2 separate regions of the Homo sapiens genome follow, and region 1 is linked to region 2. Evidence: fine-mapped expression QTL. A gene starts in region 2. The other region holds a variant in brackets. All regions are shown on one strand. Distances are from middle to middle. Region 1 holds the start of CYP2C19 (cytochrome P450 family 2 subfamily C member 19). Region 2 holds the start of CYP2C18 (cytochrome P450 family 2 subfamily C member 18).

Region 1 (12,086 bases), 79 kb before region 2:
TTCTCTTGATCTGATCATACCATCATGCTTATAAGGCTTAATATACTAATCGCAGCCCTTTACTCTCTGTATATGCTAATAACTACACAATGAGGTGTATTCACATATCATATTAACACTGTTAAAACATCTTTTACTCAAGAAAAAACCGTAATGCTTATACATCTTCTAACCCTCTTTCTACTATTACTAAACCCTAAGGTCATTTTGGGGTTTATATATTGTAGCTATAGCTTAATTAAAACATTAGTTTGTGGATCTAATAATTGAAGTCTATAACTTCTTATCTACCGCTTATCTGCTTTTGCTGGTCCTAAACCCACAGCTGCTTCCTTTACAACAGGCATAAATTATTTCTTCAGAGAAGTTCAATTTTCACGGCTATTCTGAATAAAACACATGGCTAATATAGTAGAGGACTTATTTAATAAAATCTCTAATAACAAACACTTCCCTTACTGTTTACCCTCAGCCAAAAATTCTAGCAAATGGCTATGAAATAAAGAAGGAACACAACATTTCAAACTATTGACAGTTTGTTATTCTGAATTTAACATGCAAAGACCTAAATCTTTCTCTAATAACAAAATATATTATTTCATTCCACTATTTCTGACACTGACAGACTGGAAAAGGCAACAAAAGCCTTTCAAAGTATTTTACTTTACAATGATCTCTTGTAACATTGTACCTCTAGGGATATACTTTATTTAAAAAATACAGGTGAATTTACTTACCTTTTGCAAGCCACTGAAGGAGCATACTTACATTGGTTAAGGATTTGCTGACATCCTTAATATCTATCTGTAGGATATTTCCAATCACTGGGAGAGGAGTGGGGCCAGGAGGGAGTTTTCCTCTCCCAGAGCTCTGTCTCCAGATTGAAAGGAGAAGCAAACATGAGAGACAGAGCACAAGGACCACAAAAGGATCCATTGAAGCCTTCTCCTCTTGTTAAGACAACCGTGAGCTTGCACTCCAAGCTTTTTATAACACTCCATGCTAATTAAGTGTGTGTGCCTCTTTGATGGATAAAGTGGCCAATCACCTAGGCCCACTATATGCTCCTTCTGAAAGGACTTTGACCCACTGATAGAGATAAAAATAAAATGTCCTTTGGTCTTGTTCTCCTTCGTCCCAGTGCCCACTCTGTACATTCTGGTTTCATTGTACTAGGTTGAAGCCTAGGTATTGGTAATAAAAACAAAAAAATGTTAACCCAAGTGGTTCCAATGCACCGTCATAATTGAGAGCACTGAAGTAAACAATCTGATGCAAAAACAATTACTTAAAATTCTGAATTCTTAGATTAATAACCAGTTGGGAATTTATGATTTAACGGAAATGGCCATATTCTATGCCTTGTATATTTAAAAAGTATGTCAATCCTATATCGAAGATTAGGAGACTTTGTCCTTTATAATGAAATCCTCTATTTAATATAGCCTACTAAAAATACAGCAGCCTAAACATGAAATAGCTAACATAACTCATATATCTTCAATAACCAAACATATATCAAGTAAATTACCTTAGCAGATATAAACACCTTTACCATTTAACCCCCTAAAAAAACACGTGAAGGCAGGAATTGTTATTTTTTATATTTCAAATGGGAAAAGGGAGACCCTGGGAGAACAGGACACCTGTTGGTGCCACACAGCTCATAGCTGGCAGAACTGGGATTTGAGCTGAGGTCTTCTGATGCCCATCGTGGCGCATTATCTCTTACATCAGAGATGCTTTGAGAACAGAAGACACAAATTTGAAAAAAAAAATCGTTTGCTAAAACTTTGTTTTAGCAAAACAAAACAACTTCCAAACATTAGTTATTCTGAATATATACCACATTCATCCTGTTCATAAAACAGGCTTCACATTAAATAGAACCACTTATTTATCTAAGGAAAACAGCCCCAGAGATGCTCATGAGAAAAAATAAGAGTTCTCCCTTCTCCATCACTGCAGAGGGGAAACGCTCAGTGTAACTGAAGGAAGAGCTGATCTCAGAGAATTTGGTGCTAAGGGCTTGAGAAACTAAGGCTTCTTGACCTCCTGGTCTCCTCCAGACATGGCTGCTTTATATTGATTTTGCTTTCTGATTTTCAAAAAAAAATGTAACAATGCAAAGCAAGCATAGGAAATTATGGGCAGAACAACAGTTGTGAATCTAATAGAGGATGGGAGGTAGGGAAATCACTAAATGGACCCACAGCACAAAACCACCACAATGTATAGACCTTAACGGGAGCTGACATTTGAGTTGAAGGTCTAAATACAACCAGAAAGATACACATTACTAGATCACTAACGACAATACTTACACAAAGCCATTTTCTTTAAAGATATCATCGTATTTGTTCTAAATTTCCTAATGAGGTTATTTCCAGTTCTCTTATTAAGAAAAAGTAAGTTATGTTAAGACACAATTGCACAATGTTTCACTGGTCATTTTTAACAGGGATTCTAACCCCATTTAGAGAGAATTCTCACACCTCATATCCCTTTGGAATCTCTCAATTGCCTTTGCTTACAATAAAATTGACCCATCTCAGGAATGAGGAGGCTGAGCCTTGAAGATTCAGTACTGTAGCCAAGAACATGGTGTCTGCTGGTGCTAGAGCTGAGACTAGAATTCATAAGCCCTGCATCTTGAAGGTTTCATTTCAAGCAAAACATTCAGTTCAATTGAGTCCACAGATATTTACTGATTGTGTACAATGGTTCAGTATTTCGTGATTCAGTCTAGTAAATGATTTTCAAAATAAATATTAATTTCATTAATAATTACAGCCCAAGTTGACTAGATTGGGGGTCAGAAGAGTTTGGTTTTATAACCTTTAGTACTTGGGTGAGTCCAAGGCCTTGGAGAACCCTTTATACAGGGCAAAGAAAAGCAATAACTTGGTCCCTGACTCACGTAACTTTAAACTCTAACAGAAATATACTACCTTAGTTTGGGTAAGATAAGCTTGGTTGCTCTCTTTAGAATAATCATTTCATTCCTTGAGAGCTAGGTGTTCCAGTTCTGCTCCTCCTCTCTTCTGCTAAGTTGAGGCTCCTCCCTAGATCTTTCAGTTTATACTATGAAAGAATTATAGATAATTTGAAGACAAAAGGGATCTCTGAGATCAACTATTCTAAACAGGAATTGATTTTTTTTTTAAATGAGCAATTGTTGACTCAGTGAGACAAAGTATCACAATGCCTCAGTATAAGACTTAGAATCACAGTTTTTCAACTCCCAGTTCAGTGACATATCACATCCCGTCTCATAGAATTCACATCTCAGTCCAAGTGATCAGGGGAGTATCAACATTAAGCCCTCCACAGTCACTGGGTAATACAAACCTCAGCTTGACTAGAATGGTGGGTTAAAGTAGGCTTTAGAAAAATGTATTTCTTAACAGCAGTTTGGGGTTTCCAGCAACACTAAGTGGAAAGTGGAAAGTATATAATTACCACATGCCTCTTTCCCTGCACCCACACACAGCCTCTCACAATCAAGAACTCTCATAGGTTACAATCAATGAACCAACATTGACACATCAACAACCAAAGCTCATAGTTTCTGTGGGGTTCATTCTTTGTGTTGTACATTCTATGGGATTTGACTAATGCATAATGACATGTATCCACCATTGTAGTATCATATAAAATAGCTTTACTGCCCTTAAAACCCTCTGTGCTCTACCTGTTCACCCTCTCTTCCTCACGAGCCCTAGCAACAAATAATCTTTGCAGTGTTGGCATAGTTTTGCCTTTTCCAGAATGTCATATGTTTGGAATCATACAGTATGTAGCCTTTTAAGATTTAACTTACTAATATGTATAAAATTTCTCCATGTCTTTTCATGGCTTGATAGTTCATTTCTTTTAACACTAAATAACATTCATTGTATAGGTTTACCATGTTGTCTATTCATTTATCTATTGAAGAACATCTTGGTGATTTCTAATTTTTGACAATGATGAATAAAACTGCTATAAACATCCATGTGCAGATTTTTGTGTGGAAATATATTTTCAATTCATTTGGCAAATGCCAAGGAGCACAACTACTAGATAATATAGTAAACATATTTTAGTTTTATTAGATACTGCCCAACTGTCTCCTGAAGTGTCTGTACCATTTTGCATTTCCACCAGCAATGACTAATAGTTCTCCTTGCTGCATATCCTTGCCAGTGTTTGGTTCTATCAGTGTTTTGAATTTTAGCCAGTGTATAAGTGTGTAATAGTATGTCATCGGGGTTTTAGCTTGCAG[T/G]TCCCTAATGACATTTAATGATTAGTACTTTTCATATATTTATTTGGTATCTGTATGTCTTCTTGGTGAGGTGTCTGTTCAGACCCGTTGCCCATTTTTTTAATCAAGGTGTCTGATTTCTAATTGTTGAATTTTAAAAATTTTGGATAGCCATCATTTATCAGATATATCTTTTGAAAAATATTTATCCCAGTCTGTGTCTTGTCATCTTATTCCCTTGATACTATCTTTTGTGGAGTAGAAGTTTTAAATTTTAATAAAGGCCAGCTTAGTTATTCTTTATTTCATGGATTGTGCCTTCATTGTAGTATTTTAAAAACCATTGCCAGATCAAGGTCATCTTTATTTTCTCCTACCTTATATTACCAGAGTTTCATAGTTTTGCATTTAGTATTTAGATCTATAATATATTTTTAGTTAACTTGCGTTAAAGATGTAAGGTCTATTTCCAGATTCATTTTTCTGTATGTGAATCTCCAGTTACTCCATTAGTCTTTGTGGAAAAGACTATTATTCCCCATTGAATTGCCTTTGCTTTTTTTTCAAAGATCAGTTGGCTGTATTTCTGATTATCTATTTCAGGCTCTTTACTCACTTGCATTAATCTATTTGACTGTTTCTTCACCAATTTCACATTGTCTTGATTACTGCAGCTTCATAATAAGTCTTGAAGTTGAATCAGACAAGGTTAATCACTTGATTTTGTTCTCCTTAACATTGGCTGTTCTGGGTTTTTTGGCCTCTCCATATAAACTTTACAATCAGACTGTTAATATCTAAAGATAAAAAATAATAAAAATAGAGGCCCCTCATTCCAAGATGGCCAAATACGAACAGCTCCGGTCTGCAGCTCCCAGGGTGATTGATGCAGAAGATGGCTGATTTTTGCAATTCCAACTGAGGTATCTTGTTCATCTCATTGGGACCAGTTGGACAGTGGGTGCAGCCCATGTAGGGCAAGCCAAAACAGGGTGGGGCATCGCCTCACCCAGAAAGCACAAGAGGTTGGGGGATTTCCCTTTTCTAGACAAGGGAAGCCATGAGAGACTGTACTGGGAAAATCAGGACACTGCCACCCAAATACTGTGCTTCCCCAATGGTCTTAGCAAATGGCACATTAGGAGATTCTACACTGTGCCTGGCTCAGCAGGTCCCATGCCCACGGAGCCTTGTTCACTGCTAGGACAGCAATCTGAGTTCGAACTGCAAGGTGGCAGTCTGGTTGGGGGAGGGGCATCCACCATTGCTGAGGCTTGAGTACATAAACAAAGCAGCCAGGAAGCTCAAGCTGGGTAGAGCCCACCACAGCTCAACCAGGCCTGCCTGCCTCTGTAGACTCCACCTCTGGGGGCAGGGCATTGCTAAACAAATGGCAGCAGAAACTTCTGCAGACTTAAACATCCCTGTCTGACAGCTTTGAAGACAGCAGTGGCTCTCCCAGCACAGTGTTTGAGCTCTGAGAACAGACAGACTGTCTCCTCAAGTGGGTCCCAGACCCCCATGTAGCCTAACTGGGAGACACCTCCTAGTAGGGGCTGACTGACACCTCACACAGCCAGGTGCCCCTCCGAGATGAAGCTTCCAGAGGAAGGATCAAGCAGCAATACTTGCTGTTCTGCAATATTTGCTGTTCTGCAGCCTCTGCTGGTGATACCCAGGAAAACAGGCCCTGGAGTGGACCTCCAGCAAACTCCCACAGACCTGCAGCTGAGGGAACTGACTGTTAAAAGGAAAACTAACCAACAGAAAGAACATGCACACCAAAACCCCATCTGTAGGTCACCATGATCAAAGACCAAAGGTAGATAAAACCACAAAGATGGGGAAAAACCAGAGCAGAAAAGTCAAAAATTCTAAAAACCACATGGCCTCTTTTCCTCCAAAGTATCACAGCTCCTTGCCAGCAATGGAACAAAGCTGCATGGAGAATGACTTTGATGAACTGACAGAGGTAGGCTTCAGAAGGTCGGTAATAACAAACTTCTCCAAGCTAAAGGAGGATGTTTGACCCATGGTAAGGAACCTGAAAACCTTGAAAAAAGATTAGACGAATGGCTAACTAGAATAAACAGTGTTGAGAAGACCTTAAATGATCTGATGGAGCTGAAAACTATGGCATGAGAACTATATGATGCATGCATAAGCATCAGTAGCCGATTGAATCAAGTGGAAGAAAGGGTATCAGTAATTGAAAATCAAATGAATGAAATGAAGCAAGAAGAGAAGTTTAGGGAAAAAAGAGTAAAAAGAAATGAACAAAGCCTCCAAGAAATATGGGACTATGTGAAAAGACCAAATCTACATCTGACTGCTGTACCTGAAAGGGACGGGGAGAATGTAACCACCCTGGAAATCACTCTTCAGGATATTATCCAGGAGAATTTCCCAACCTAGCAAGGCAGGTCAACATTCAAATTCAGGAAATACAGAGAACACCACAAAAATACTCCTCAAGAAGAGCAACCCCAAGACACAAAAATGTCAGATTCACCAAGGTTGAAATGAAGGAAAAAATGTTAAGGGCAGCCAGAGAGAAAGGTTAGGTTACGCCAAAGGAAAGCCCATCAGACTAACAGCAGATAACTTGGCAGAAACTCTACAAGCCAAAAGAGAGTGGGGGCCAATATTCAACATTCTTAAAGGAAAGAATTTTCAACTCAGAATTTCATTACAGACAAGCAAATGTTGAGAGATTTTCTCACCACCAGGCCTGCCTTAAAAAGCTCCTGAAGGAAGCACAAAACATGGAAAGGAACAACTGGTACCAGCCACCAAAAACATGCCAGATTGTAAAGATCATCAATGTGAGGAAGAAGCTGCATCAACTAACAGGCAAAATAACCAGCTAACATCATAATGACATGATCAAATTCACACATAACAATATTAACCTTAAATGTAAATGGGCTACAAGGTAATTTATAGATTCAATGCCATCCCCATCAAGCTACCAATGACTTTCTTCACAGAATTGGAAAAAACTACTTTAAAGTTCATATGGAACCAAAAAAGAGCCTGCATCACCAAGTCAATCCTAAGCCAAAAGAACAAAGCCAGAGGCATCACGCTACCTGACTTCAAACTATACTAGAAGGCTACAGTAACCAAAACAGCATGGTACTGGTACCAAAACAGAGATGTAGACCAATGGAACCGAACAGAGCCCTCAGAAATAATGCCACATATCTTCAACTATCTGATCTTTGACAAACCTGAGAAAAACAAGCAATGGGGAAAGGATTCCCTATTTAATAAATGGTGCTGGGAAAACTGGCTAGCCATATGTAGAAGGCTGAAACTGGATCCCTTCCTTATGCCTTATACAAAAATTAATTCAAGATAGATTAAAGACTTACATGTTAGACCTAAAACCATAAAAACCCTAGAAGAAAACCTAGGCAATACCATTCAGGACATAGGCATGGGCAAGGACTTCATGTCTAAAACACCAAAAGCAATGGCAACAAAAGCCTAAATTGAGAAATGGGATCTAATTAAACTAAAGAGCTTCTGCACAGCAAAAGAAACTATCATCAGAGTGAACAGGCAACCTACAAAATGGGAGAAAATTTTTGCAGCCTACTCATCTGACAAAGGGCTAATATCCAGAATCTACAATGAACTCAAACAAATTTACAAGAAGAAAACAAACAAGCCCATCAAAAAGTGGGCAAAGGATATGAACAGACACTTCTCAAAAGAAGACATTTATGCAGCCAAAAAACACATGAAAAAATGTTCATCATCACTGGCCATCAGAGAAATGCAAATCCAAACCACAATGAGATAACTTCTCACACCAAACCACAATGAGACAACTTCTCACACCAGTTAGAATGGCGATCATTAAAAAGTCAGGAAACAACAGGTGCTGGAGAGGAGGTGGATAAATAGGAACACTTTTACACTGTTGGTGGGACTGTAAACTAGTTCAATCATTGTGGAAGTCAGTGTGGTGATTCCTCAGGGATCTGGAACTAGAAATACCATTTGACCCAGCCATCCCATTACTGGGTAAATACCCAAAGGATTATAAATCATGCTGCTATAAAGACACATGCACACATATGTTTATTGCGGCACTATTCGCAATAGCAAAGACTTGGAACCAACACAAATGTTCAACTATGATAGACTGGATTAAGAAAATGTGGCACATAGACACCATGGAATACTATGCAGCCATAAAAAATGATGAGTTCATGTCCTTTGTAGAGACATGGATGAAACTGGAAACCATCATTCTCAGCAAACTATCGCAAGGACAAAAAACCAAACACCGCATGTTCTCACTCATAGGTGGGAATTGAACAATGAGAACACATGGACACAGGAAGGGGAACATCACACTCTTAGGACTGTTGTGGGGTGGGGGGCGTGGGGAGGGATAGCATTAGGAGATATACTTAATGCTAAATGACAAGTTAATGGGTGCAGCACACCAACATGGCACATGTATTCATATGTAACAAACCTGCACATTGTGCGCATGTACCCTAAAACTTAAAGTATAATAATAATGACTAAAAAAAACTAGAAAGAATAATATCATCAATCAATATACAACAAGAAGGCACTTCCTAATAATTGTCAATAAATTTACAATTCCATATCTGTTAAAATTATATTTGAAATGAAATCATGTTACATTTTAAAATGCAGTGTTTTATGCAATTTTCAATAAATACTTCCTACCTCAAAAAAAAAGTTATGTTTACACTATACTGTAGGTTAAGTGTGCAATAGCATTACATATAAAAAGTGTGCATAACAATTTTAAAATACTTTATGACTACAAAATGCTAATGATCATTAGAGTCTTCAGCAAGTCATAATCTTGTTGCTAGTGGAAGGTCTTACCTCAGTGTTGATGGCTGCTGACTAATCATGGTAGTGTTTGCTGAATCTTTGAGTGGCTGTAAAAATTTCTTAAAATGAGACAGTGATGAAGCTTGCCACATTGACTCTTCCTTTCATGAAAAATTTTTCTATTGCATGTGATGCTGTTTGATAACATTTAATCCACAGTAAAACTGCTCCTGAAATTGGAATCAATCCTCTGAAATCCTGCTACTTCTTCCCCAACAAAGTTTATATAATATTTTAAATCCTTTTTTCATCATTTTAACAATGTTCAACAGTAGTAGATTCATTGTCAAGGAAACAATTTCATTGCTCATCTGTAAGAAGCAACTCCTCATCCAGTAGAGTTTGATCATAAGATTGCAGCAATTTAGTCACATTTTCAAGCTCCATTTCTAATTTTCTTGCTATTTCCACCACATCTGCATGCATTTACTTTTTTTTTTTTTTTTTTTTTTTTTTTTTTTTTTTGAGACGGAGTCTTGCTTGTCACTCAGGCTGGAGTGCAGTGGCGCGATATTGGCTCACTGCAAGCTCCACCTCCCGGGTTCATGCCATTCTCCTGCCTCAGCCTCCCGAACAGCTGGGACTACAGGCATCCACCACCATGCCTGGATAATTTTTTGTAAATGTTTTTAGTAGAGACAGGGTTTCACCGTGTTGGTCAGGATGGTCTTGATCTCCTGACCTCGTGATCTGCCCGCCTCAGCCTCCCAAAGTGCTGGGATTACAAGTGTGAGCCACTGCACCTGGCCTGCATTTACTTTCTTTACTGAAGTCTTGAAACCCTCCTAGTCATCTATGAGGGTTGGAATCAATTTCTTCCAATTCATGTTAATATTGATAGTTTGAATCCTCCCATGAATTACAAATGTTCTTAATCTTTTTCAAAAGGTTTTTAATTTAGTTTGCACACATTAATTAGAGGAACGACTATCTCTAGCAGGTGTAGCCTTCTGAACTGTACATATCAAATAAGACTTACAAGTTGAAATTACTACTTGATTCATGACTGCAGAATAAATGTTGTGTTGTCAGTAATGAAAACATCTCCTGATACATCTCCATCAGAGATCATGGGTGCCATGATTAGCTGCATTGTCAAGCAGCAGTAATATTTTCAAAAGAATTTTTTTCTGAGTGGTAGAGCTCAAAAGTGGTCCTCAGATATTCAGTAAATTATGATGCAAACAGATGTGCTGTCATCCAGACTTTGTTGCTCTTTTTTCTTGAAAAAGTTTTTGAAGTATTCCCTTAAATACATTTTCCATGTTGTTTACTTTATCTTCTCTCACAGGAATGCCAATAATTCATAGGTTTGGTTGCTAGACATAATCACATATTAATCAAACCCTTTCTTCATTTTTTTAATTCTTTATTTCTATCTGACTGGGTTAGTTCAAAAGAGTGGTCTTCAGACCCTGAAATTCTTTCTTCAGCTTGGTCTACTCTATTGATAAATTTTTCCATTGTATTCTGAAATTCTTTAAGTGAATTTTTCAATTCCAGAATTCTGATTGATTTTTTTAAAGATGTTTATCTTTTTCTTCATTTCCCAGATTGCTTTAGTAGTTTTTTTGTGTTGATTTTCATTCTTGTCTTGAATTTCACTGATCTTCCTTGCAATCTATATTTTGAATTCTTTATATGTCATTTCTGAGTCCCCATTTTGCTTAGGGTTCATTTCTGGGGAGCTAGCATGATCTTTTGGTGCTTTACAAGATTCAGATATTTCATGGTATCAGAATTCTCATGATGGTTCCTTCTTATTTGGAGAGGCTGCCACTTTTAATTTTTTAGATTATTTTTCTGTGGATAGAATTTTTTCTTTTCCTATTATTTTTTTCTTTTCCTTTATTCTTCCCTCCCTTCCTATGGGGTGTGACTGTAGAGTATATTGGGCAAGGTCTTTTGGCTTTTCTTCTACAGCCCTATGCCCTCTGTCGGCAGATTTTACATTAAACTGTCTGACTCAACTTACAAGCAAGTAGATGGCACTTACAGGTAAGAACCAGCTGTGGCACAAGCAGATGGGTATGTAGTGGATCTTTGTTTACTGTGAGATGTTCTCTGTTGTTTAAGGTGATAGGCTGGACATTGGAGTACCCAGTTCCCTGAGCTTCCTGTTCTGTGGGGATGCAGGGCCACAGCTGGGCAAAGCTGGCTTGCCCATAAATACCTCAGTGATGAGCACAGGCACGGGATTTGATGAGTATGGCTGAGAGGAGCTCCTAGTAAGATTCACTGATGTCTCTGTGAAGGGCAACTGGGCTGCACCAGCTCCGTGTCCTAGATAGGCAGAAACATAATGCTTCCCTCTCACACACACAAAAAAAATTGAACTAATATCCAGCATCTTCTCTGACTACAATGGAATAAAACTAGAAATTGGCCAGGTGCAGTGGCTCATGCCTGTAAGCCCAGCACTTTGGGAGGCTGAGGTGAGCAGATCACCTGAGGTCAGGAGTTTGTCACCAGTCCGACCAACATAGAGAAACTCTGTCTCTACTAAAAATACAAAAATTAGCCAGGCATGGTGGTGCATGCCTGTAATCCCAGCTACTCGGGAGGCTGAGGGAGGAAAATCACTTGAACTCAGGAGGCAGAGGTTGTGGTGAGCTGAGATCGCACCATTGCACTCCAGCCTGGGCAATAAGAGCAAAACTCTATCTCAAAAAAAAAAAAAAAAAAAAAAAACTAGAAATCAATAACAAGAAATTTTGGAAACTATACAAATACATGGAAATTAAACAATACACTCCTGAATGACCAGTGGGTCAATGAAGAATTAAGAAGGAAATTGAAAAAATTCTTGAAAAAAATAATAATGGAAACATAACATACAAAAACCTATGGAATGCAGCAAGACAAGTACAAAGAGGGAGTTTACAGCTATAACTGCTTGCATCACAAACAGGAAAAACTTCAGATAAGCAATCTAATGATGCATCTTAAA
Region 2 (17,893 bases):
GATCCACTGGTATAATCACCACAGAAGGAGAGTGGATCCAACAGAGATAGTATCAGGATGTGTGGCATCTCACAGAGGAAAAATGTTTTCCATGCTATACACTCATAGGTCACAGACAGCAGCTTTGTACAGAGGCCATAAATATTCTGTTACCACCCAGATGGCCCTGACTAATTAATTCTTTCTTTCATTCGTTTATGTTTATGATGAACTCATAGATATTTCTTTGACATCAGGCATGATTTGCTTTTTTAAGACGTTTAATGATCATGGCTAATCTAAGCAAAATACATAGCATATACAGTGACTGACTTCTCAAAATCTTTAATCACAAAACACTTCCACTACCATTTTCCTTCAGGCAAAAAAATATAGCAAATGACTGTGAAGCAAAGAAAGCAGCAGGCCTTTATCATTTTGATTCTACCTTACCACTTGAAATGTTTCTCTTCTGGCAAAATGCATTATTTTATTCCACTATTTCTGACAATGACAAAAAAGAAAAACATACTCCACAGGAAGTATTTGCTTTACAATAGCATACTTTAATAATCAGCCTCTGCTGGTACAGGAGGAATGCTGAGGAATGTTCCTATAACATATAACCTTTAATAACTGGCCTCCAGTAATACAGAAGTTTCTATGTGACATTAACGGTTATATGTGGCAAGCCCACAGCTAACATCATATTTAATGGTGAAAAGCTAAAAGCTTTTCCTCTAAGATCAGAAATAAGAGAAGAATGCCCCCTCTGACCATTTCTGTTCAACAGAGTACTGGAAGTCCTAGTCAGAGCAATTAGACTAAAGACAGAAAATATTCATATAGGAATATTCGTATAGGAAAGGATGTATTCATGTAGGAAAGGATGAAGTGAAATTGTCTGTTTCCTGATGAAATAATCTTATATGTAGAAAATCTAAAGACTTCAGTACAAAAGTGCTAGAACTGATAAACAAATTCAGTAAACTTGAAGGATAAAAAATCAACATGCAAAAATCAGTGGCATTTTTATACACTAGCAACAAAATATCTAAAAAAGAAATTAAGAGAACAATTAATTTATAGTAGCATCAAAAAATAAAATACTTATGAATAAATTTAATCAAGGAAGAGAAAGATCTATATACTGAAAACTACAAATCATTGATGAAAGAAATTGAAGATGACACAAATAAAGGCAAAGATATCCCATGTTCATGGATTGGAAAAACTAATAGTGGAAAAATGTCCATATTACCCAAAGCAATATACAGATTCAGTGCAATCCCTATCAAAATTTTAATCTCATTCTTCACAGAAATAGAAAAAAAATCTTAAAATTTGTATGGAACCACAAAAGACCCCAAATAACTAAAGCAAATTAATCAAAAAGAATAAAGCTGGAGGCATCACACCACTGAACTGCAAAATATGTTACAAAGCTATAGTAAGCAAAACTGCATAGCATTAGCATAAAAATAGACACACTGATTAAAGGAAAAGCGTAGAGAACCCTGAAATAAGCCCACACATCTATAATCAATTGATTTTTGACAAAGGTGCCAAGAACATACAATGGGGAAAGCACTCTTCAGCAAAAGGTGTTGGGAAAACTGGATATTCATATGCAAAGAATAAAAGAGAATCCTAATCTCACCCTTATACAAGAATTAACTCAAAATGAATTAAAGCCTTAAGCATAAGACCTGAAACTAAAAACTACTGAAAGAAACCATATAGAAAAACTCCATGACATTGGTCTAGGCAATGATTTCTTGGATATGATCCTAAAAGTACAGGCCATGAAAGCAAAACTAGACAAATGAGATTCTGACCACCCAAAATACTTAGAAACTCAAATTACTCAATAACAAATAAATAATTCTATTTAAAACGAGCAAAGGGGTCAAGTGCAATGGCTCATGTCTGTAATTCCAGCACTTTGAGAGACAAAGGTGGGTGGATTGCTTGAGCCCAAGAGTTCAAGACCAGCCTGGACAACATAATGAGACCACATCTCTACAAAGCATTAAAAAATTATCCAGGCATGGTGGCATACACCTGTAGCCCCAGCTACTTGGGGGTCTAAGGTAGAAGGATGGCTTGAGCCCAGGAGCTCAAGGCTGCAGGGACCATGATCCCATCACTACACTCCATCCTACAACAGAGCAAAACCCTGTCTCTATTAATTAATTAATTAATTAATTAATTAAATGGGCAAAGGATTTGAGTAGACATTTTTCAAAAAAAGACATACAAATGGCCAAGATATATTTTTTAAATACTCAACAAATTTAATCATCAGAGAAATGCAAATTAAAACCACAATGAGATAACTCATCACAACTCATAGATAAGATATTATTATTATCAAAAAGATAAAAAGATAACAAGTGTTGACAAAGATGTGGAATAAAGTGAACCTTGGGTATGTAAATTAGCATTGTGATTTGAGAAAACAGTATGGATGTTCCTAAAAAAAACAAAAATAGAACTATCAGATGATCCAGCAATCCCACTACCAGTATATACCCAAAGGAATTGAAGTCAGTATGTGGAAGACATGTCTGTACTTCCATGTTTATTGCAGTGCTATTGACAATAGCCAAGATATGGAAACAACCTAAGTGTTCATCAATAAATTAATGGATTTTGTATGTGACATATATGTACAATGAAATGCTATTCAGCCTTTTAAAGAGGAAAAAATATTCTTATTTATGACGGCATGGATGAATCTACAGAACATCATATTAATTAAATAAGCCAGGCAGAGAGAGGCAAATATCATATATGATCTCACTTCTATGTGGAATCTTAAAAAGTTAAACTCAGAGAAGTAGAGATTAGAATGGTGGCTACCAGAGGCTGGCAGGTGGAGATGGGCCAAATAAGGGGATACGTTGGTCAACAGGTACAGAGTTACACTTAGATAGGAGGAATAAGCTCGGGTGTTCTATTGGACAGCAAGGTGACTATAATTAATATTAATGTACTGTATATTTCAAAACAGCTAAAAAAGAGGATTTTAAATGTTCTCACTACAAAGAAATGACAAATATTTGAGATGATGGATATGCTAATTACCCTGATATGATCAATTCACAATCTATACATGTATCAAAATGTAATATTGTACCCCATTAATATATACAATTATCATTTATCACTTTAAAATGAAATAAAACTTTAAGAATTGTGAGGTTAAATACACCTTGTACATTACTGGAGGAACATAAAGCATACTTACATTGGTTAAGGATTTGCTCATGTCCTTAACATCTAACTGCAGGATATTTCCAATAATCGGGAGAGGAGTGGGGCCAGACGGGAGCCTCCCTCTTCCAGAGCTCTGCCTCCAGAGTGAAAGGAGAAACAAACAGGAGAGACAGAGCACCAGAGCCACAGCTGGATCCATTGAAGGCTTCTCTTCTTAGTAAGACAACTGCGGGCTTTCACTTCAAGGCTTTTATAACACTCCCTACTAATCCACCTGTGATTCTGACTCTGACTGTGACTAGTCAGCAAAAAGCACTTTAATCTCTCTTTTGAATGAACATTGGCTCACTGAAGAAGATAAAAATAAGGTGTTCTTTTTTCTTGTTCTTTCCGGTGCCCCACCCTGGAGATTCTGGTTTAACTAGTCTGAAGCAGAGCCCAGGATTTTGTTGTTGTTGTTGTTGTTTTTCCTTGAGATGGAGTTTCGCTCTTGTTGCCCAGGCTGGAGTGCAATGGCAAGATCTCAACTCACTGCAGCCTCCACTTCCTGGATTCGAACGATTCTGCCTCAGCTTCTGGCGTGGCTGGGATTACAGGAATGCACAACTACGCCCAGGTGATTTTGTATTTTTAGCAGAGACAGGGTTTCACCATGTTGGCCAGGCTGGTCTCCCTAAGTGCTGGGATTACAGGCATGAGCCACCGTGCCTGGCTAGGCCTAGGTTTTTTCAAACAGCCCAGGTGGTTCCACTGTGCAGCCAAAATTGAGAAACAATGAAATAAATTATTTCATCAAAAAATTATTCAAAATTTTGGATTTTTAGATTGATGAGCAGTTGGAAATATGACTTTGAGGGCAATCTGTGTATTATATTCCTTGTACATAAAATAATGTTTATCCTATTGAGAGGAGTTAGCCAGCTTGCATTAGGCAGGCAGTAAGGGAAGGGTCCCCAGAGAACCTCCAACCCTTCCAGGTCATTGCCCAATCCACAAAAACCCCAAGTACTTACACTAGATGTTTTGTGCAGATAAGGGAACTTGCACAGGGAGCTTGCCTAAATATGCCCACAGTGAAAAATTCCTACCTTTAACACATGCGCAGGAAGGGAAATAAATCAATATGGAGTGGCTTAGACTAAGAGCCCACACGCGCAATGGAAGGAAGGGGTGGAAACACCAGGAATTCACGCCTTATGCAAATAAGTATCCCAGCCTCATCAGCTTTTCTATAAAAGTCCTGGTATTCAACTGTGAAGTGGCAATCTGCAACCTGCTTTCAGGGCCTCTCTCTTTGCTGAGAGTTTTCCTTTCACTTAATAAATTCTACTCCACTCACTCTCCAGTGTCTGTGTGCCTAATTCTTCCTGCATAAGACAACTCGGACCTAGCTGAGCTAAGGATCTGCAAGACTGCAACACTATAATGCTTTCTCAAACACTAGATCATTTTCCTTGAAAATGAGATCCTTTTGAAATATTTTAATGTAGTACTAACATTACAGCTGCCTAAACATAAAGCAGCTAACAAACTCATTCATCTTAAATGGCTAAACCGGTTATCAATTAACTAAGTAAACATACACACCTTTTTCCATTAAACCCCGTGAAAAACACTGGACGGCTGAGAATATTATTTCATATTTTCCAAATGGGGAAAGGGAGACTCTAGGAGAACAGATGACCTGTCCAGTGTCCCACAGCTCATAAATGGCAGGCTGGGATTTGAACTGAGATCTTCTGACGCCCGCTGTGGTATATTCTCACTTACACCAGAGCTGCCTTGAGAACAGTTTTAGCAAAATAAAATAAATCCTAAAAACATTTCTCACTCTGAATCTACACCACACTGTTCACAAAATAACAGGGTTGTACATTCTCAAGAGAAGAAATAAAAGCTAGGGTTTCTCCCCTCTCTGTCACTGAAGAGCTGAAACCTACTCAGTATAACTGAGGAAAGAGCCAATCTCAGAGAATTAAGTGGGTAAGATCTCAGAAACTATGGCTTCTCCAGCTCCCACTTGCCTCCAGACACTGCTGTTTCTATTGCTTTTTTGGTCTGTGTCAGAAATAATGGAATGAAATATTGCACAGCAAGGAAGGGGAATTATAGGCAGAACAACAGGCATGTGCTTCAGTGGTGAATGGGAGGTAGGGAAATCATTAAACAGACCCATGGCACAGAACAAACACAGTTGTGCAGACCTGAACTGGAGATGACATTTAGCGCTCATGAGGCTCTATATATCACTAAAATGATACATACATTTCTAGATCACTAATGGCAATGCTTGTACAAAGGCATATTCTGTAAAGATGTCATTGTGGTATTCTAAATGACTAGTACAGTTATTTGTTTATTTCCATTGTATATATTTAAGGTATACAACATTGGTAGACATATAAACAGTGGAATCATTACTATGGTTAAACAAATTTACATATTAATCAATTCTATAATTAACTTCTTTTTTGTGGTATAAGCACCTAAAATCTACTCTTTTAGCAAATTTTCAGTATAGTATATTAACTATAGTCCTCTTGCTGTTTATTAGATCTTTAGACTTATTCATCCTATCTAACCACAAATTTGGCTCTTTGACACACTTTTTTCCATTTCCTCTGGCTCCCACTTTTGGTAACCACCATTCTACTCTCTGTTTCTATGTATTTGACTTTTTAAAGATTCTTCATATAAGTGAAATCATGCAATCTTTTTTCCTCTGTATCTAGCTCATATCACTTAGCATAATATCCTTCAGGTTCATTCCATGTCATTGCAAATGGCAGTATCTCCTTTTAAAGTTTAAAAAATATTTCATTGTGTATATAAATATAAAACACAATTTCTTCATCCATTTATTTGTGAATGAACACTTAGATTGTTTCTACATCCTGGCTATTGGAAATAATACTGGATTAGTGCAGTTATTTCTAACTGCAGTAAGGAAAAATTAAGTTTTGTCAAATCCCATATGGACAATGTTTTATCAAACATGTTTACAGGGATTCTGACAATTCACAGAGAATTTTTATACCCATCATAACTCTTTTGATTCTCTCAATTACCCTTGCCTGTGGTAAAATTATTTCCACTTTAGAGGTAAGGAAGCTGGGCCTTGGAGATTCAGTATTTTGTTCAAGGACACAGAGGCTGAAAATGATAGGGCTGAGGCTGGAAACCTATCTCCTAACTCTGACATCATTCCCTCCAAGCAAGAAATTCAGTTCAACTAGAGTCACCAACATTTACTTACCATGTACTATGAGGCAATATTTCACTACTCAGGATAATCAGTGACTTTCAAATACACATTAACCAACTCAACAGTTGCAACATAGGTTGATTACAATTAGGGTGTGGTTTTGTAACCTTTAGAATTTGAGTCAGTCGAGGTTTTGGTGAATAATTTATCTGAGACAAAGAAAAATAGTTATTTTACTGCTTGGCTCACATAGCTCTGAACTCTAAAAGAAGTGCACTACCTTCTTTTAGATAAAATGATCTCAATGCCTTTCTTTAAAACAATCACTTTATTTCTTGAAAAATGGGTCTCTGTTCCTCCTTTCTGTTGAGACTTCTGCCTGGTCCTTTCAAAGAATGAAAGAAACATAGATAATTAGAGACAAGAGATCTCAGAGATCCACCAGCCTAATCCCTACTTTATTATTAGAAATAAGGAATTGGTGAATAAGTGAGGTGAACGGTCGCTAGTGCATTAGTACATAATCTTTATTTTTTAAGAATCCAGGTTTTAATTCCCAGTTCAGTGATTCTCACATTGCAGAGATTTCCTATCATTGCCCAAATGGATGGTCAGGAGGGCACCTGGCTGAAGCCCTCCACAGTGAGAGAGTAATGCAAACCTCAGCTTGGGTGAAATTGTGAATGCAAACTGCTTCGTTTTAAATAAACCTTTTCACTGGAGTGTAGTATACAAAGAGAATGTTGGAAACATCCTAAATGTATATAGCTCAATGAATTATCATGAATTGAACATATCTGTGTAATCAACACACAGGTCAAGAAAAATAATTTTGCCAGGACCCCAGAAGTCCCTTTATGTCTCCTCCTACCTTCCTCCCCGACTAGATAACTCCAGTATTATGCCATAGGTTAGTTTTGCCTGTTTGTGAGGCATACAAATGTAATATAAATGGAATCACATTATGTATTTTTAAGTATCTAGTATTTTCACTTAATTTTGTGTTTGTGAGATTCATTCATGTTGTCACAAATAGCAGTACGTAAGTTAGTTTAGAGTGTTTTATTTTATAACAATTCCAAAATTTATCTTTTCATTGTATTGTTAAGGACTTTTGAGTTGATTCTAGTTTGTGGCTATTGTGAATAATGCTGTTATTACTCTAATACATTGTTATCCCAATATAAGGATTTCTGTTGCTATAACTATGAGCATAATTGCTGCATGTGCATGTGTTCAGTTTTATTAATGACTGCCAAAGAATTATCCAAATGGTTTAATAAATTTACAATTGTACTGAGAGTGCCAGCTGCTTCTCTTTCTTGCCAACCCTTAGCATATTGTCTTTTTTCATTTTAACCATTTTGATGTGTGTGTAATAATATCTTATTGTAGTTTTAATTTGCATTTCAGTGAAGGTTCATGATGCCGGGTGCTTTTTCAAATGTCCTTTGGCAATATCAAATCTTTTGTGAAGGGCTTGCATAGATTAGATATGAGTCCATTATTGGTTTTATGTGTATCACTTATCTACATATATGCATATCTATATATATGCATATCTATATATACACATATATACACAAATGCATATGTATTTTATATTTATATAATTTTAATAACTATAAATGTAATAAAAAGTTGGAGGTACAAACAGAGAATTTTCTCTATTTTGAACATTTGAGAGTAATTTTGGACCTGAAGTTCTAAACCTGAAATATTTTAGTATATAGCTCTTATAAGCAAGGCAATTTGACTATATAACCAAAATATAACTTTAAAATTCAGGAAATTAACATTGATGCATTAGGGCCATCTAATCCTCATTTCCATTAGTGTTTCCTCAATAAGTCCCAATGATATTCATTGTATTCATTTCAGAATCCAGTTTAGAATCCTGAATCACATTTTGCAACTAGTTGTCATGTCTCCTTAGTCAACCACAGCCTGACACAGTTCCTCAGTCTTTCCTCAACCTCCTTGACCTTGTCACTTTTGAAAAGCATAGGTTTGGAGTTTTAAAAATTTCTCTCAATTTGGGATTATCTGATGTTTCTTCATAATCAGATCCTGACTATGCAGATTTGGCAGGAATATCACAGATGATGCTTTGACTTCTCATTGCATCATATCTGGTGACAAATAATTTCAATCTGTTCCATGATGGTTGATGTTTACTTTGATTTTTGAGCCAAGATCGCACCATTGCACTCCAGCCTGGGTGACAAGAGCGAGACTTCATCTCAAAAAAAAAAGAAATACTTTGTGGGCAGATTCTTGATACTACATAACTATATATTCCTCATCAAGTTTTTAATGTATTCATGTATTTATTTATATCATTACGGAATCACGAATTCAGTTGTGTTCAATGGGTTATAATCCATTATAACATTATTTACTTTGGTGCTCAAATTATCTTCTAATGACTGGATTCTGTGTCCTTTTGTCATGTCCCCCTCAATCCTTAAGCAATTCCTTACTTCCTGGCACAGCAAGATATTCCAGGCTCATCTTTTCCTTTTTTTTTTTTTTTTTTTTTTTTTTTTTTTTTTTGAGACAGAGTCTCACTCTGTCACCCAGGCTGGAATGCAGTGGTGAGATCTTGGCTCATTGCAACCTCTGCCTCCTGGGTTCAAGCAATCCTCCTGCCTCAGCTGGGATTACAAGCACCTACTGTGGATTCTCACTAAAGAGGGAGGAAGACTTAGATTTGTGACTCTTTGCCTCTATTCCAACTCATCAGGAGACCTGATGGCCACTGGGGCCCTCAAACACTTCATAAGAAAAATTATCCTATCCCAATATCACCTCCTTGCCAAAATGCTGTCTTTGGGCTTCACCTGCTAATGTTATCATTGGCATCTTCCACAAAAGCTTGGGTGTGGGACTTTGCTGCTTGAGGACAAAGTACAGAGGTAGTTCTGCTCAGCAGCCACAGGGGGCAAAAACAGAGTTAAGCAGATCCCCAGGGTTGGCATGTGGAAAGGTGTGGGAGAAAAAAGCACAGCTGAGGAATTCAGGCAACAAGTCCTGGGTCTGAGGCTCAGACCCTTCTTACACTACAAATGACAGATGAGGTTGTACTGATTCTGAGCCTGGTCCAGAGCCACAAACATTTTCAGCAAAGCAGCTGTCAGACTTCTCAGCAGAACTGTGTCACAGATCCTTGGTGTCAGCCAGATCAAAGTTTGTAATGAGACTGTAGAAACTGCAGACTGTTTGACCACCACAGAGTCTCAGGTTTCCTACCTGTATGTGGATGCAACATAGAAGTAGGCAGTTCTTGCATTGCTATAAAGAAATACCTGAGGCTGCGTGAGGTGGCTCACATCTGTAATCTCAGCACTTTGGGAGGCCAAGGCAGGTGGATTGCTTGAGTCCAACAGTTCAAGACCAGCCTGGGCAACTTGGCGAGACCCCATATCTACTAAAATACAAAAAATTAGCCAGGCATGGTGGCACGTGCCTGTAATTCCAGCTCCTTGGGAGTCTGAGGCATGAGAATCACTTGGACCCTGGAAGCAGAGGTTGCAGTGAGCCAAGATGGCACCACTTTACTGCAGCCTGGGTGACAAAGTAAGAACCTGTCTCAAAAAAAAAAAAAAAAAAGAAAGGAAAGAAAGAAATGCATGAGACTGGGTAATTTATAAAGAAAAGAGGTTTAATTGGCTCACAGCTCTTCAGGCTGTCCAGGAAGCATGGCGCCAGCATCTGCTTGGCTTCTGGGGAGGTCTCAGGAAGCTTTCAATCATGGCAGAGGGCAAAAGGAGGATCTGGCATCTCACAGGGTGAAAATGAGAACAGAAGGGAGAGTGGGAGTTGGGGGGCTTGCCACACATTGTAAAACAACCAGACCTCACACAAACTCACTCACTATCACAAAGACAACACCAAGCCTGAAGCCATAAGGGATCTACCCCCATTACCCAAACATCTCCCACCAGGCCCCATCCCCAATATTAGGGATTACATTTCAACATGAGATTTGGGTGGGACAAATATCCAAATCATATCAATGCCTATCAGAGGGCTTGGGAAGCTTCCAATATAAATAGTCTTTGGAATTAGCGGCGGAGCTGCCCAGCCTAATTCCCAGTGACTCATTTAAGGGCAGACTCTTTGGGGCTGTTGAGCAAAAAGGGTGTTGTAGGCAAGAGGGGCCCTCTCATTTCTGTTCACTGATAACAGTATAAGAGTTTCACTTTCTAATAATGGTGCAGTCACTAGTCCAGCCTCACTTTCTCACAGATAACAATTATTAAATCTGAACAACTTATTCATCAGAAAATAGTTCATAGAATGCATTCAAAAGCCACTCAAATCAAGCAGATCTTAGAGGGGATTACCTGAGAAGCAGAAACTACAAGAAGTGAGTTCTCTACATGTACAGCTTTTCAATTGAGGACAGGCCACAAGATGCATTAAGTATTAAACTCCACACAAATGACACAGGATAAAATAGGAAATCTGAAAGCAATGTTGGTTAAAGAAATTGATTTTATAATCAAAATTGACCACACAAAGTCAACTTCAACTTTAGATGAGTTTCCTCACAAATTCTATCAAATTGAAGGAAGTAAAAACACCAGCCTTACAACTCTCTCAGAAGAGGAGGAAGAAAGAACACTTCCTGATTTGTTGTAGAACACCATTCCCACCCTGACACCAAACATGGCAAAGGCATCATATGAAATAACATACCAGTATGTCTCAAGAGCATGTTTATACAAATTGTTAACAAAAGGTACATATATTGATCCAGCAATATGTGACAAGAACAAGACAACATAACCAATGGTATTTATCAACAGAAAGGCATGTTAAGTTTTTAAAATCCATATTTGAAGTCCACCTTTGTTAACTAAATGATAAATTTAAGCATAAATTCACCTCAATATACTCAAGAAAATCATTTGAAAAAATTCATCACCATTTCATTATGGGGGAAAAAAACTCTCAGCAAAATTAAAATAGAAGGGGATTTCCTGTATGTAATAAAGTTTATCTATAAAGAGTCTGAACTAGCTTTATCTTTAATGGTGAAGGATAGAAAAATTTCCCAACAGTTTTAAGAACAAGGTAAGCTCTCATCACTTGTACTCTACATTAGGTGGAGGACTTAGTAAGTGCAACATGACAAAGAAAAGAGAAAACAAATCAGAATATTGGAAAGGAAAAAGTAAAATTTTCCCTCTTCACAAAGGCTTGAACTTACATGTAGAAAACTTAACCCATTTGTTCTTAAAAACTACTTGCAATAAAATGTGCCTGAGATTGGTTTTAATCAGGTATGGTAGGACACACAGACACAGAAATTCTTGTCATGAAGGAAGAGCTTTTTACTCACCATTCCCTACAAACAAGATTCCCCACATGATGCAGGCCACATGGGAAGCACCCATGTTGGTCAGGAGCCAGAAGAGGGGCATAGGAGAAGCAGGAGCAAAAGCCTTTGTTGCAGTTTCTGTGGGAAGGAACGGGCAAGACCAAGTAGGTAAGCTGAGTAAGTTTAGGACTGGCTAGTTTGAATTATCTCAGCAGGCTCTGGGGTGTAGGAACTGACCCTAGCTGCCCTGGGATGATTAGGACAGGAATATTGTGTCTTGGAGTGTAAGAGCTGGATAGAGAAGATGGGTGAGAGTATGGACTCAGGATTGCTTGGTCTGCATGGCATGCTCACAGGAAAGTCATTTACTATCTCTAGGAATTAGTTAACCCCAAGAGGGAGAAGCAATCTCTCCCTGATCAGTGAGGACCCGATGTTAAAACTTTGTAAAACATAAAAAATTAAAAGCACAATTAGAATGATTTGTCCTCTGATGGTTTGACATCACATTAAGGGAACTTTAAGGTGATAATAGTGGGGACTTTTAAAAAGTAGGGCATATGTTGCCCTCAACAGCACAGAAAATATTGTGTTATGACAGTAGAAAGGAGCAATACAACTAGAGGTATAAGGAGTCCTAAGTTCCCACTTATATGGCATTAGTCAATAAAATGGGTCTAAAATTTTGGGGGGTTTCTAACAACATCTTTGTGGAGCTGTAAAGTGAAAATATGAGTTTGACAATAATATCTCATTGTATTTCTCAAGTTTAGGTGGCAGGTCCAGCAGTTATATTGTTGGAGAGTATGAACCAGTAAGTCAGTAAAGTATATGTAAAGTGATGTGGTTGTCGTGTGTAACTAAGGGGAAAAGGGGGTTATAGTTAGAGATGCAGGGCAGAAGGCCATGGTGAAAGCTGGAGAAGTGCTAATGGGAGAAGGCATGGAGGAGTGCATGGTTCTCTCTCCAGGGACCAAGGGGTTAACTGAGATGAGGCAGGTGCTCCCTGGGGAAAGCCATAATCTCCTCTAATTTTTAGAATGGCAGATAGTATTAACCCTGTCTTAGTCCATTTGGGCTACTATAACAAAAATGCCTTAGACCAGATGAGTTATAAACAATGGAAATTTATTTCTCACAGCACTTGAGGCAGGGAAATCCAAGATCAGGGTGCTGGCAGATTCAGCATCTGCTGTGGGGCCATTTTCTGATTCATAGTTGGCTACTTCTTGCTGTGTTCACACATAACAGGAGGGACAAAGGAGCTCTCTGGAGCCTCTTTTATCAGGGCATTATCCCATTCACCTCCAAGAGGCCCCACCTTCAAATACCATCACACTGGGGATTAGGTTTCAACATATGAATTTTGGAGGGACACAAACTTTCAGTCAATAGCAAACCTCTAAACCTCTACCTGATTTTCCTTTAGGCATAGGAGTGTTAAGGATGTACATTTTGGCAGACAGCAAGGAGAATACCAGGATCATAGGCTAAACAGTCAACAAGCTCAGAAACATAATAGGACCTCTAATACCAGAGAAAGAAAAGCGATAAATGTCCTGTGTTCAATTTGTGCCTTGAGAAAGATAATCCATGGGTGTTGCTGGGGCAGAGGTTTTAGTATCTAGGATGAAATCATCCCTGATAAAAGGGTGAAGTCATCTCCAATGATTAGGTCTTGGACTTGAGTGATGTCATCTGAGGTGATGTAATCTCCAGCAGTGAACTCCTGGGCCAAGGTGATGTCATCTGGGATGTGGGATCATGGTGTCCCTTCTAAGGGCATACACATTTGAGTGAATATGGGTCTTCATATTTACCATGCTTGGTTGAAACAATGGCCTATGGCCAGGTGTAGTGGCTCACACCTGCAATCCCAGCACTTTGGGGGGCCAAAGCAGGCGGATCGCTTGAGCCCAGGAGTTAGAGACCGGCTTGGGCAACATAGTGAAACCCTGTCTCTACTAAAAATACAAAAATTTTCTGGGTATGGTGGCATGCACATGTGGACCCAACTACTCAGGAGGCTGAGATGGAAGGATCGCTTGAGCCTGGGAGGTCGAGACTGCAGTGAGCTATGATCATGCCACTGCGCTCCAGCCTGGGTGACAAAGCAAGATCTTGTCTCAAAAAAAAAAAAAAGAAGAAGAAAAGAAAAAGGTAACAATGTCTTATTTGAAGAGCTCCATAATAGACCCTTATAATAGGGCTCCATTTATAAACCAATGAAAGCACCCAGACTACTAGTAATAAGGCCAACAGTCACCAGAATCATATGTAGCTGCACTAGACAGGTTTTTGTTTCTTAGTTTTCCTGTAGTTTTTCTGTGGAAGTTTATGCTCAAATGGGTCCCCTATGAGATGAGCAGCTGCCCGGCCCGTGGGACAGTCTATGGTTTTTTCTTCATAAGTATTTCTATAATCTATATATTTATTTTTAGTGTAAAATACTTTCTTATATGAGTGGTTTTACTTTGTTCACTTTGCATTTTTCAAAAATGGAGTGCTGGCAAATTCCGTGTCTGGTGAGGGTTCACTTTCTGGTTCATACATGGCTCCTTCTCTCTGTATTCACACATAACAAAAGGGACAAGGGGACTTTCCTCACTTTGCACTTTTTTTAATTAAAAAAATTTCTTAATTTTTTTTAAAAAATGCAAAGTGAAGAAAGTAAAACCACTCATAAAAGTATTTAAATGACAAATAATAATTGCATATATTTATGGGGTGCAATGCAATATTTTTATATATGTATTTGACATATATGTATATTGTGGAATGATTAAATCAAGCTAATTAACATATCCGTCACCTCACCTACTTATTTTTGTATGGTGTGAATATTTAAAAATCTACTCTTGCAGCAATTTTGAAATAACCTGAATGTAATATAATTTTTAGGATAGTAATAGTAAATCAATATTATTTAAATTATTCTCATTTGTGATGGTTAGCTTGATGCATCAACTTGTTTAGGCTGTAGTACCCAGGTTATTCAATCTAGCAGTAATGTGGTATTGCTGTAGAGGTATTTTGTAGATATAGTTAACATCTATAGTCACTCGATTTTCAGCAAAGGAGATTATCCTTGATCATGTGGACAAGGCTCATTCTATTAATTGAAAGGCCTTTAAGAGCAAAACCTGCCACCTTAACTTGAGAAATACAATGAGATATTATTGTCAAACTCATATTTTCACTTTACAGCTCCACAAAGATATTGTTAGAAATCCCCCAAAATTTTAGACCCATTTTATTGACTAATGCCATATAAGTGGGAACTTAGGACTCCTTATACCTCTAGTTGTGTTGCTCCTTTCTACAGAAGTAGAAGGAATTCCACCTAGGAACTACAGCATCGTGTTTTTGCCGAAGAGTTTCCAGCCTCCATGGTTGCCCTATAGATTTTGGACTTGTCAGCCCATACAAACAGTAAGCCAATCCGTGTGTGTGTGTGTGTGTGTGTGTGTGTGTGTGTGTGTGTGTTTCGTATTGGTTCTGTTTCTCTGAAGAAACCTCAATAACACAGATTTTAGTATGTAGAGTGGTTCTAAAGGAACAGAATCTTAAGGATGAGTTTTCTAAATTAGTTCTGGTCTGTCTGAAATTGGTTCTCTTATCTGATTAGATTTAAAGGCACTAATGACTTTATTTCCAGTGATAATGAAATCATTGGTCATGGCATAATGTGGCAATAGAAATATGCAAGATACTGCCATTGGAATCTCATAATTAAATATTTATAAAGGGCAAGGTCTGAGTGCCACATATTTGATACCTTAGGACATGTTAGTAAAAATAATGAATATAATGACTGGCTGGCTGCTCCTAACTGCTCTGGAGAAAGTGGGGATAGAAAAGGATGATCTCAGGGCTTCAAATTCTCAACTCAGGGCTTCAATTTCCACATAAGCTCCACATAAATGACCCGAAAGTGTCTATGTCTGCCTTGAAAGAAATGCTTAAGGCAGGGTGCAGTAGCTCATGGCTGTAATTCCAGCAATTTGGAAGGCCAAGTAGGGTGTATCGCTTGAGCCCAGGAGTTTGAGACTAGCCTAAGCAACAAGGCAAAACCCCATCTCTACAAAATATATATATATATATATTAGCCAGTTGTGGTGGAGTGTGCTACAGTACCAGCTACTCAGGAGGCTCAGGTGAGAGGATCACTTGAGCCCAGGAGGTTGAGGCTGCAGCGGGTTGTGATCGCACCACTGCCCTCCAGCCTGGGCAACAGAAGTGAGACTCCATCTCAAAAAAAAAAGAGAAAGAAATCCTTATCTCCTGTAGCTACAAGGCTAAGATTGCTGAAAATCAAACCCAGACTTTCATCCTGTAAGTGGCAAAATTACAACACAAATTGAATTCCGAACATTTCAGGGTGTCTTCTGCTAAAGTGAGGGCTTGGACTTGGAAGGAATGGAATTGTGAACATTGGAATAGGAGCACACAGAGCAGATCTCAATGCAGCTGGGGAGACTGAACCTTAAAATCTGTTGTGTCTCCTTTGCCAGTAGAAGCAGCCCTTCAGCCCTGTCTGTGGAGGTTATTATTGTTTTGCCTGAAGAACCTGTAATGGCCTCCCTTGAGGCCTTGTATGGCACTGGAGGGCCCCAACCAACCTTCTTTGCTTCTAGACCTACAATTAGACTCAAGCCCCAGCAGGCCTGGAAGGGTAACCCATGAAGGGGTAGCCTAAACACCAAAATGATTGCATGATATTTCCAATTCATGCAGATAGTAATCTGGGGAATATGTGTAAGAGTGGAAACTAAGAGTGTGGGATAATGGTGAATGGAATACAAAGTTAGATCAGGCCAGTTTATTGACATGAGTTCACTAAGCAGAAATTCCAAATTCAATGTTGTAGCTTGATGGGCTAGAAAAAGCCTAACAGTTTGTTTGGTTGGTGGTTGCTTGGCTGAAACACAGAATAAAAAATGGCCTAAACTAAACAAAGTTAATGTGCCAGAACTGCTTGGTACACTGTAGAGGAAGGGATTCAAAGACTTAGACTCAAATGTCAGAGTGAATTTATCTTATCAGAACTGCTCACACATCCCTAGTGGGGTCCAGTGGATCACCATTCAGCACAGCTATGAGAAATAAATTTGTAAAGCGATCCCCAGCATCCTTGAAGAACTCTGTGGTTTTTCTTCTCTATAAGTCAGAAATTACAATGCGAACTGAACCAGAATCCTTCAATGCAATGAGGATAATTGAATCCCAGGTTAACAAGGGCCAAATTGTAGCACTTAGCCACCAAAGACGAAACGTTCGTAGTTATCATAATGGACAGTGGAGTTAAAGCAATAATCAGAATAATCTGACTCTTATCTACTTATGGCACTGGTCACAGTGTCCCTACAAGAGGAATGGATGACCGGTCTACCAAATTCTCAGCTGGTCTGTATAGACATTAGGAGAGTTCTAGAGTGAGTGAACAGAAGTCTAACTTGAATCACCCAAACATTGAGTCATGACCCCTCAATCTATTCCCGGATTTGAGACAGTTTGCAGACCTAGAACCCGTTGAAGAGGCATCCAGTTCCCCTTAAAGAATTGCCCTGCTAAATTCCAAAAAATGTATACTGTGAATCTTTCTTCCAGACTTTCCCAAAGTCTGATGTTTTACCACAGTGAATGAAGTTACTGTAACTGGATCTAAATTGACAGTAATTCTGAGTGACCCCAAATACCACTTTGATCCACCAGTCAGAGTAAAGTCTTATGGAAGTCAGGTGATCAATGGAGGTTTAGCTCAGGTCTGTCTCCCAGTGAGCCCAGTAGGGTTTCAAAATCATCTTGTGTTTATTTCCCCTGTTCCAGAATGCATAATGTAAATAAATGTACTCAGCAACTGGTAGGATTCCCAAATTGCTTCCCCAAGCTATATAGTGGCAGCTATTATGGTAGGAAAGACCAAGTAGAAGTCCCTAGAACTTCCTCTACCTAGGAAAATGGAAACTAAAAGCAATACCACATTCCTGGAAGGATTGCAGTGATTATTTTCACCATCAGGAATTGAAAGATGCAGTGATGGTGATTCCCACCACATCCTCACTCAACTCACCTATTTGGCCTATGAAGAAAACAAATGGATCTGGAGAATGACAGTGAATTATCACAATCTTAACCAGGTGGCAACTCCATCTAAA

The links.
Region 1: its variant is fine-mapped to the expression of CYP2C18 in lung (TOPMed, PIP above 0.99).

Annotation. Positions count from the first base shown.
Region 1 is chr10:94,751,556-94,763,641 of GRCh38, reverse strand. CYP2C19 (cytochrome P450 family 2 subfamily C member 19) reads right to left here and starts at 961. Exons shown (of 9, transcript NM_000769.4): 1 at 769-961. The coding sequence starts at 936. It also overlaps the pseudogene MTND4P19. RefSeq lists enhancers at 2,667-2,693, 5,416-5,710 and a promoter at 938-2,901. The variant T/G (reference allele first, on the strand shown) is at 4,268.
Region 2 is chr10:94,669,327-94,687,219 of GRCh38, reverse strand. It overlaps CYP2C18 (cytochrome P450 family 2 subfamily C member 18), which reads right to left and starts at 3,491. Exons shown (of 9, transcript NM_000772.3): 1 at 3,233-3,491. The coding sequence starts at 3,400.